2 separate regions of the Homo sapiens genome follow, and region 1 is linked to region 2. Evidence: fine-mapped expression QTL. A gene starts in region 2. The other region holds a variant in brackets. All regions are shown on one strand. Distances are from middle to middle. Region 1 overlaps LOC105374277 (a long non-coding RNA gene). Region 2 holds the start of FGF12 (fibroblast growth factor 12).

Region 1 (5,392 bases), 720 kb after region 2:
TTTACCAACAACAGTAATCTCTCATTAATTTTCCCAACAATCTTGTGAGGTCTTGAAAAATTTATCTTTACAGATGAGAAAATAAGGATCAGAGAATTGATCTGCCTAAAGATACCTTATTAGAAAGTGTGACACTCAGAACTAAAGTCTAGGCCTCCTGGTTCCAAATTTTTTGTTCTTTAGTACCCTATATAGATGAGAAGTTCACCTGGAAAATTACATGCAAAGTAGGCAAATCATGATTAGAGTAATGACTCTGAAAACATGTGTTTGGCACGACCTCATCCAGAGGACCACGTGAGATACTTTGAATACATCTTGTGTATTATAGACCAACATTTCCCTTTCTGAGGACTGTGGAAGCTAGTGGGAGAAAGTGAAAAAAATATAATGACCTATGAGGAAAATCATAAGAGACACAATTTCACTAATCCTCAGATTCCTTCTTTATTTAACAACTTTTTCCTTTTTTGTGTAGTTTTTATTTTATATATTTTTACATAGTTAAGATCATGTCATGGTTATATATTATATCTTTATTTGTTCACATAAGTCATAATCAATTTTCAACGTCACTTAAATTCTTTGTAGGTAATATTTTTATTATATGTATAATATTTCACTTAAACATATATACAATATTACTTCAATGCTTTCCTAATGTTAGACATTTAGGTTGTTTTCAATTTGAGACTCTTTTAGATAACATTGTGATGAAATTATTGCTACTCTTTTAAAAGTAGAATACTATTACCTATATTGTATTGTTTTGTTATATAAATCATTAACATTTATACAACATATATATTTTTATTTATATATGATTTATATCAATAGCAATAATTAGAATGGGCAGAAATTATGAATCTAATCTAGAGGTGCTCTAAGTGGTAAACTATAGATAGATAAAGGTAGGGAGAAAGAAAGATGTAGTAAGAAAGAGAAAGAAAGAAAGAGAGAAAGGGAGAAAGAAAGGGAGAAAGGAAGAGAAAAAGAGAAAGAAAGGAAAGAAAGAAAGAAAGAGAGATAAGACAGAAAAAGAAAGAAAGAGATAAGACAGAAAGAAAAAGAAAGAAAAAAGAAAGAAAGAAAGGAAGGAACGAAAGAAAGAAAAAGAAAGAGAAGGAAGAAAGAAAGGAAAAGAAAATAGTTTAAGCAAGGAAGCATAATGAAGGCATTCTGGGACAATGTATTTAGAAACCAGGGGATATATTTCCTTAGAGGATAAGAAGAATTATATGTAAAGCAAGAGCAAAAATTGTTAGGGATGGGTTAAATGGGTTGGTACATATTTATTATTTGGAGATGTTAGCATGAGGCAATAGAAGTCCTCTGTAGAATTTGATTACTATGGGAGTCCTAGAAAACTTGATGTATTAGTCAGGGTCCAAACAGGAGACAGAAAACACAGTAGTAATTTGACAAAGGAGATTTCATATAAATAATTTTAAGTAGGTATAAAGTTGCCAACAAATAAAGAATAATTCTAAGGTGTAGGAGAGGTGGAAACTGTAGAAGCTGCTGCCATCCTTATAGCTGAGAAAACAAAAGGAGCAAGGGAGGAAGGGTGCTGTAGATCTTTAAGTCACACTGCTCAGGAGGGAGTTCCGCTTCTGTGCTGCTGTTGTCTCTGAGCTCAGAGGTCTGGCCTCATGGGTTCTGGGACTCATACCTCTGAGGAAGGGATGCTGCTGCTACAGGAACAACTGCTAACTATTATGAGGACAAAGCTTTCTTGAGGTCCTGATCATGAGAACCACAAGGTCACAAAGAGCCCTCAGGAAAACACAAAAGCAAGTCCTGTCTTCTTCCAAGTATGCAGCCTCTTTGTAGCAATTTTTGTTGACCAGCTCTAATGGAAAGGCTGCCAAAGCACAAGTTTGCAGTCCCAGCCTCAGCATTTCAAAATAGAGTATAGAAGGGTGGGTTTGAAGTTGAGAAATATCATAACAACAGGCACTATTCATATGTTCTTACATGAATTAAATAAGAGGAAAATTGAAGATAATACATTTATTTATGACGAGCCACTCAGCCAAAACTCCTTCTTTACTTCTTGGGTTTTGGAAATGGAAAAGCTTAAAACTAAAAAATTCCAAGAATCATTTTTTGATGCTTTTTTAAAAAAGGGAGCTACATTAAAAATCACATATGGGTCAGAGTTCCTACTTTGCCACTAGATTATCTACTATGACCCTAAGTAAACTATTTCCTTCTCTTAGGCTCAGTGTACTCTCTAATCCAATGAATCTATGTCATTGCATCTAATAAAGCTTTCGTGAGAATCAAAATGAGGTATGACACAAGTGCTTTGTAAATCACCAAATCATTGGTTTTCTTTCCAAATCC[A/T]GATAGTTTCTAACATGACAGGATGAACTTCTGTAATATCTCTTATATTTATTTTATATTTATTCTTATTATAAGCACCTTAGTTTACTTACATATTACATGAACCTTTCTGAGCAGAATTTAATCTCTGACTTTATTTTCTCTCCTATGTGTATTTCAAACATTGATGGATTTTTGGATTAATCTTACATATTATTGATTGAAATGCATCACTATCTTATCTACCTATTGCTCAGTAACTTCAGTCTACACTGCCCAACTTGTGGGCACACACGATTTCACAATTATTTTACATCTTATTACATCTTCATCTCTACCTACATTTGCTAGTGTCTTTCTCCACAACATATTTTTGTATCATTGAAAATAGGCATATTCTCCTTTGACCTTCTACAACAGAAAAGTTTATTCTGTGTGAGCACACGGTACATGCATGTTTGTATGGAAATCTCTTTATTTTATAGCATATTTTGTCATTTGTTGACAACATTCTCCTTAAGAGGTGGTAAGCCTTCAGGGATTAGAGGCCATTTTTGTATCAGTGCCTCTTGCAGTATTTTGTAGGTCAGCAACAGACAATAGACTTGTTGCATAATGTATTAGAGGAAGACTTGGCAGAACTTTGTGTTCAGTGTGGTACAAGGGATGAAGGAGACAAAGAAACCAAAGATGACTCATAGTTGTGAGCCTAGGAGTGTTAAGGACTTCATGTAATATATACATTTGGAAAAGATGGATCAGAGGAAGGTCATGGACATTTGTAAACATGCTCAGATTTAGTTTTAGGAGAACGCTTAATTGAATTCTATTCAATTATTAAACTTTTTTTAGAGATTAGGCAAAAGAACAATAAGCAATGTTATGGTTATAGATTTATACCTTAGAGGTTGAAATTTAAAACAAACAAGTAAGTGAATTTCTTAAAGCCTAAGAGAGTGCCTTTCACAAAATAAATTTTATTAAACAGATACCATGTGCAATGAAACATTGGTGAATACAATGGACAAAGTTCTTAACTTCTGAAGCTTGCAGATTTACTGCTGTAAATGAGTAGAGGCAAGATAAAAAAATAAAACCCATAAGTTTGGGTTCTTTCATATTCAGTCATTCAACAAATATTTTTTGAGTGTCATTCATAAACTAGTTTTTGGGCTATATTCTTGGGGATATAGCAATAAATGTATCAGAGAGTTTACGGTCTTATAAAAACAAGTAATATAAACTTGATGAGTGTTATGAGGTGCAATAGAGTAGCATGCTTTGAGAACACTTGTCATGGGTACTCAACCTAGAGTAGGCTGTCAGGAAAGACCTCTTGGGAGAATGAGGCATAGGGATGCAGCTGGTGGGAGAAGTGTATTTTGGCAGAGAACATAATGATTGAAGAACCGAAGGTGAAAAATAGTATATCAAGTTCAGGAGTGTAAATAGCACTGAATGAAAATATGGTAGGGATGCAGTGTAGTGTGTGTGAAAGGACTAGAGATACAGGTGTGCCCACATAATGGGGAACTCTGTAAATTATGTTACTAACTCAGAATTATATTTTAAGCACGTTGTTAAGCCACTTGTAGCTATGAATAATTGATAGAATAAATTGAAATCAAAGAAGCTATCACCAAAATATGGCTCTAATTTCCCCAATGACTACGTTTAACTGAATGATGTCTACTTTCCTTTCTCTCTTCTTTGAAAACATTCTAGTAAGATCTGTCACCCTCCATTTTAAAACTGCTTTATTGAGTTATAACTCAATTCAAAACTATATACAAATTTAAATTGTGGAATTTAATACATTTTGACATATGTACATGCCCATGAATCCATCATCACAACCAAGACAATGCACATATGCATCACTCCTTAAAGTTTCCTCATCCTCTGTGTCATCCTCCTTTTCTCACCCCCTTACCCTACCCTAATCTCACCAGCCCTGATCTGCTTTCTGTGACTGTAAATTGGTATTCATATTCCATAATTGTGTGTAAGTGGAATAAAACACGATGTGCTCTTTCTGTTTGTCTTCGTTCACTTAGTATAATTATTTTGAGATCCATCCATGCAGTTGCATGTATCAATAGTTCATCCCTTTTTTATAGACCAGCAGTATTTCATTAAGTGTACAACACTTTATTTATCCATTCACCTGCTCATGAAGATTTGCTTTTCCTCACACACTTGGGTTACCAGTACTCAGCTGAAGACTTGAGGGACCTCTCTACAGCTAGCTATCTAGAACTCTCTGTTTGCTCAGCTCTGTCTTCTCCAGTATTCTGTCTAGAGAAAGCTGAACAACTTGACATCCCTGGACCCTCAGGTCTCTTAAATTAGGGACACCACTGGGCTTTTTTAGATTCCTTTCCCTGCCTCTCCATAGGGATCTAGAACTCTCTCTTTGCTTAGCTCTTTCTCCTCCAGTACTCCCTCTAGAAAAAGTTACACACGATGACATCGCTGTACCCTACAGTCTGTCTTAATTTAGCATGATGGCTGGGCTTTTTTCAGGTTCTTCTTCCTGCACAATGACCTGTATACTCTCTATAGATTGTAAGCTGGGGGCTATCACACAAATTACTTTATTTTTTCCCTCCTCAATCAGGAATCACTGTCTTGGGCTGCCTGATATCCAACATCTAAAATCTGTTGTTTCATATATTTTACCTGGTTTTGTTCATAGTTTCCATTGTAAGTGTAAATCCAGTCCCTGTTTCATCATCATGGCTAAAAGTGGAAGTTTCTTTTTGGTAATATTCAGTTATAGAAGTCTTATTTTTATAACTATGACTTATTTTAATGTATTAAAGATATAGTCGAGTCCAACCACAAAATGCCAGCCTCTTGTTCATTTCCATGCCTCACTCCTCTTTTAAATGGATGCCTCGCTCATGGCTCAGGGATCTGCAGTGGGAAAGAAGTCATAGTCTGTTTTCTCACTCTTCTTCTGGCTCTTTCAATTATCATAATCTCTCAAGCTGTGGACTCTTCTGAGGCTGGGGCAGGGGAGTGGAAGCCAGAAGAAAGGCGGGTGGGCTTTAGGTAATTT
Region 2 (5,362 bases):
TTTGATGAGGTCAAGATATTCCAGCAATGACTATGTAAGCAAAGGTAAGAAAAATCTTGACAGAGGAGCTATCATGAGCAAGAAGGTTGTTTTCCCAGTCAAGGCTTATCAATTGCATTCCAGATGTGCTGACCCCTGCAATTTCCCCATACGTGGGAAACTAGACTGCATAATTTGTGGTAGTGGGGGTCTGTGATCCCACTTTCCCCTGGTTTAAAAACAATCTTGAGGTTTGTTTAGGATAATAGCAATTGTTGTCTAGGAGTTAAGCTTGGAGAAGAATGGAAAGATCTTGAATGTCAGAACACAAATTTTGCATTAAATTTGATTTGCTTTCTATTTAATAAAGCAGCTGGGTTCTTAAAATTATGAATAAAAATAATGATAATTTATGAACTAGAAGGTTCTCCCTGTTCTTATTCACTGTAGATAATGGGAAGGCAGTTATATGAAAAATCATTCTGGACTATAGATGGCTTGCCTCTGCCTTTGAGGTATGACACTTAGGTTCTGAGCCCAGATCTGGTTCACCATGTGACTCTTTTCAAGTGCCACTCCTCCCCTGCCTTTAGTTTCTCCGTCTGTAAAAGAATAAATATGAAGAGTACATAGAGATGCATTCTAAAGATATCTCCTATTCTAAAACCTTTGAGAAGGAAAGAACATGTAACGGGGTGCAGTATTAAGAGCAGAAATTATTTATCTCAATGAAATAGACTATTGTTCTTAAGGAGCAACACTACTCCCACCCTAAGCTTACTTCCTAAGCCTATTCAACATTGAAAAGAAATCCTGAATTTTATGATTCTTCCAAACACGTACTTTGGCATACAGTTGGAGAACCTAAAAATTAGTAGGCCCTAGGTTGTGGCCTCTGCAATCCGATACTCCTAAATGCTGAATGGATCCAGGCGTTGCTGACCCACAGCAGTTCATTAGTGGGAGTCCTCCACTAATAATGTCCATGTCTGGCTGAACCATCCGTGGTTAATATTTGTAATCATGGCCCTCAGGCATTGGAAAAATCAAAGGATGCCCTCTGAATCACCAGAAAAAGATTAAATTAGATACAACTCCAGGTTTCTTGTTGGGAGTACATTTTATTATATTTCAATGTTTTGAAAATTGGGACTAGAAGCCTACTGTGGAAGGATCTTTCATGAAGTAGAGTATGTGACTAATCTGCACATCTCCTTCCTTAACCATTTCAGATAACAGAGTTTTCTGGACTTCTGGAGAATAAGATTATTATTCTCAAGGAGAGATGATCACCTCAGGAAAATCTGGACTATTGAAAAAAAAAGGTAGTAAATACAACACAATTTTTCCTGTTAAACATTTTGCATATAAACGAAATACAGTGTGGGCTTTAGAAATATTTTGATATGAAAGTAGCACTTCAAGAGATTTGTGGTTTTGCATCTTCCTCTAGAGCTCTGTACAAGAAAAATACTCTATCCCTGCAACTTCACAAAAATGATTAGGTATTGCTTTTGGAAGTACTTATTATCAATAAGACGCCTCCCCACCTTTGGGGACTTCTTGCAGGTTGTTGGAAAAAAGCTAAAAAGAGCACCTCAAAATATCCTCAGTGGCTTTTTTGAAGAACTTTAGAAGCCTTGGAGCCTGCTCATGGAACAGTTTTGAGGTGGAGGCAGGCAGGAAAACACTGAGTTTGAGTAACAAAGAAGCGAGAGAATATTAACCTTTGACAGCTCCATAACTACTCTCACCCCACTCTCGAAAAACAAAACAAAACACATACAGGAATATAACAAGCAATGTGAAGTCAGTGGGGAGAGGAGAGGGAAGCAGACAGCTGGAAAGTTACTGCAGCAAGTAGAAAGAGAAACCCAAATTGTGAACATTAAAAACGATTCGTAAATCTCTCCTCCCTGCCTTCTGAATAAAACCATACCCTGCCTGGAGACACTAGCCTCCTCTAAGACTTCAGTAATTCGTCCTGATGCACGCAGTACTAGTCCAATCCATTTTCTAGTTTGCAGAGGAAAATCCGGTCCGGCGTTTATTTTTAGCAGCGCTTCCCTGTGACCGAATGCTACAGCTCCTCAGCTGGGATAACTGAGGACCGTATTGGGGAGGGAGGCGAAGGGGGCGGGGGAGCGGGAGGCGGTGAAAAGGGGAGGGGGGACGCCCTGCGCATGCGTGCCAGCGCCCATGCAAATCTGCTGTGCATCCAGAGAGCAAAGTGGGATGATCTGTCACTACACCTGCAGCACCACGCTCGGAGGACAGCTCCTGCCTGCAGCTTCCAGACCCAGGTAAAAAAAAAAAAAAAAAAATCTGAGCGGGCACTGTGCATGCATTTCAGTATCAGATGCGCGTCGCAACGTATCCCCTGTAGAGGCAATCTGCTGCTGCTCCTAAGTGTCCTTTGGTGGCTGATTGCAGCTTCAAGGTTTAAGAAATCCCATCTTTCAGGAAGCCTGAGGGGAAGGAAGGAAGTACGGGCGAAATCATCAGATTGGCTTCCCAGATTTGGGAATCTGAAGCGGGCCCACATCTTCCGGCCAACTTCCATTGAACTTCCCAGCACTCGAAAGGGACCGAAATGGAGAGCAAAGGTATGTGGTTGTCCCTATCGGGGGACTTCCCGCTGCATGTGCGTGTGGCCAAGGCAATCCTCGGCGAGGGGACTGCAGTGCTTGGGGAGCGAGCATCATACTAGGTCGATAGAGGAGGAGATGCTATGTCCATTGCAGCACTGGGGAAGTGTGGCAGGAAGGCGACTTCTTTTTAACTCCCACAGCTTGGAAGACAGTGTTTAATACTCCATCAGTTGCGTAGTGAACTGTGATGAGTTTTTTGGGGGGAGGTGGGGAGAGTCCCCCCAAAATGGAGGAGGAGGAGGAGGTATGTGTTAGTAAAGCAATATCTTTTCTGTATAATGGATGGACTCAAATAAATCTATTTCATTTGCTTTAGAATTGCTGACAGGCACGTTTGTACCTGATATCCAATAATGCATTGCTAAAAAAAAAATGTTTGAATTTCACCACCCCCACCTCATGAAGATGGTATTTCTGGGTGTGTATGACCACATCCTACTGCATTTTGAATATATATCAGCAGAGAAATTGGGTCTATTTGGAACAGCATGCGTTAGAACTGACCTCTAAGAAGAACAGTGTATGGGAGTACTGCTTGGCTTCCAAGCATAATGCATTTACTAGTTCTGGACATGTACATATTAATGTTCTCCTCATAAGCAAATCTGCATAATGTATGCATGCCAACTGATAAATGAACTGTAAAAATCAACTTCTGAATGGCATATTGAACACACATAAACACAACGACTATTCTAACCACAAGATTAGATATCTTTTGGATTTAACCCCATCTATGCAGGTCTGTTTCTCCTTCTCCTTAAAACGCCCACCAGGTTGTGAGAGCCTTGAGTGATATGGTGGTCAGATATCCAGGAGGCATACTGGATGTATTTAATTCTGGCGAAATCAGAAGAAATGATGTCAACTTTTATGAAACTATATTCATTACCCAGAACTCGGGAAGCTATATTTGAAACAAGATTTTATTTTTAAACCAGGAATGTCAGTCACTGTGGTAATGTACTTAGGATCAGGGAATGGTGGTGAGTTACCTATTTCTGGGCTGATTAATGAAACTGGAGTGTTGAATGATAGCAGTTCTATGTTCAATAAAGTGTTTTAAGTATTTAATTGGTAGATTTAAAGTATTTGAACCTAGGCAAGCATTTATAGTATAAAAAGAGCTGAATCAACATGGATTAAGACTAGCAGGCAATTTTCAGTTCAGGCAGATTATTCTTATGATACATTGATGGGCATCTCCACGTCTGACAATGATGTACACATATGAGAGAATCCATGTCTATAAGTATATTTGAGGCATATATTATTAACTCTATTATACTCCATTTTAAAATAAAAAGGCAGTCCTTAACATATAAAGGTTTGTAATATTCTAGCTGACTAAGTATTTCTGGGACATAAGGTTAACAACAGAAAAAGAATATCATTTTACTATGAAACAGTTTTTCTTGCTTAGATGACACCTGGTATTTGGTCACTAAATTTAGTTATTTGACAAAGGTTCTTGGTAACAGTTTTGCCTCCAATGTGTATACTAATTCCTGTTCAATCATAAAAAGAGGCTATATCTCTCGGCAGTAATCTTTTATTTTCCTTCGTTGCCCATAAAACATGCTACGTGTCACTTAGCATTCCAGGTGGTTTAATGATCATATTGCTAACAGTAGAGTTCTAGCTGTTCTTTCAGTCTTTTGAATTCAGAAAGGAGAAAGAATCTCAGAAATACATCCGAAAAGAATCAGTTCAGAAGTTCTATGTCAATCCAGACAGCAATGATATAGTGAATCACAGCACTGATCCAAAGGCAACGAAGACTTTTGCTGTAGGCCAACATTGTGGTCATTTTGCAGAGGTCCCATAATTGCCTCTGAAAAAAAAAAAAAACATGATGAAAGTCTTTATGCATGTTAGTTCCTGGACTTTCTTAATGAAGCTGTGTTAGCTGCTTGGCAATCAGATTAAAAATGGCTAATTACTTATACATTGGCCTCACTTTCTAAGTTGGTGCAAATGGCACAGCTAACGATGGTAGCTAACTTGAAATTTTTATTCCAGCCAAAAAGAGTGTATTAAGAGAAATGTGTATTTGTGCAATACTGTAATTGGTGCATCTTTCACATTTTATGCTGCCGTGTACAAACTTCTTCCCCCAACAGATTCAAATCTAATTCTAGGAAGACATTCTCAAATGTATGTATATATAATACTTTTCTAGTAGAAACTCTTTAAAGATAGAGTCATATTGCGTGACTCAGTTGAGGGTTCAAGAGTTCTCTATCCCATACCCAGATCTAATGGCCTGTTTAATCTTGAATCCCATCGCCAACACTTGACAACTTTCACATTACCTCTAGCATTTGACAGCCTTTCTTAGAGCATTTGTCCAGCATCCAGAAAGTTGAACTTCAGCTATTTACAAATAAGATCAATTTATTTTTGCTTCCTTATTTACAACTTTGCATCACTCCCTGTCATACAGGGTAAAGAAGAGAGGAAAATACATCAGTTGACCTGAGGTTCAATTCATGATCTAATTTCAGCGATTTTTGTGCACCATGTACTTAACATTGTCTCAAAGATTTGGGTTGGTACGCAGTCCGAGCAGCTCTGACGGAATTTGTGCCTTGCGTATCTTAAGGGCTTGAGATTCTTAAATGAGTTAAAATGTTTAGTATTTAGAGGAGTGGTTCACAAAGTTTGCTGCACACTAGAATCACCTGACATACTTTCTGAACATACTCATCCTGAGATGGCACCGCATACCA

Evidence for each region. PIP is the estimated chance that this variant, and not a neighbour inherited with it, causes the effect.
Region 1: its variant is the best candidate, but not a certain one, in a credible set for the expression of FGF12 in thyroid (GTEx, PIP 0.50).

Annotation. Positions count from the first base shown.
Region 1 is chr3:192,008,945-192,014,336 of GRCh38, reverse strand. All of the region lies in intron 2 of LOC105374277 (a long non-coding RNA gene), which reads left to right. Among named protein-coding and RNA genes, the nearest start is that of FGF12-AS1, 230 kb to the left of the region's middle. The variant A/T (reference allele first, on the strand shown) is at 2,350.
Region 2 is chr3:192,724,404-192,729,765 of GRCh38, reverse strand. FGF12 (fibroblast growth factor 12) reads left to right here and starts at 2,225. Exons shown (of 6, transcript NM_004113.6): 1 at 2,225-2,282; 2 at 2,443-2,585. The coding sequence starts at 2,573. LOC107986056 (a long non-coding RNA gene) reads left to right here. Exons shown (of 3, transcript XR_001740579.2): 3 at 1,212-2,043. It also overlaps the pseudogene RNU1-20P.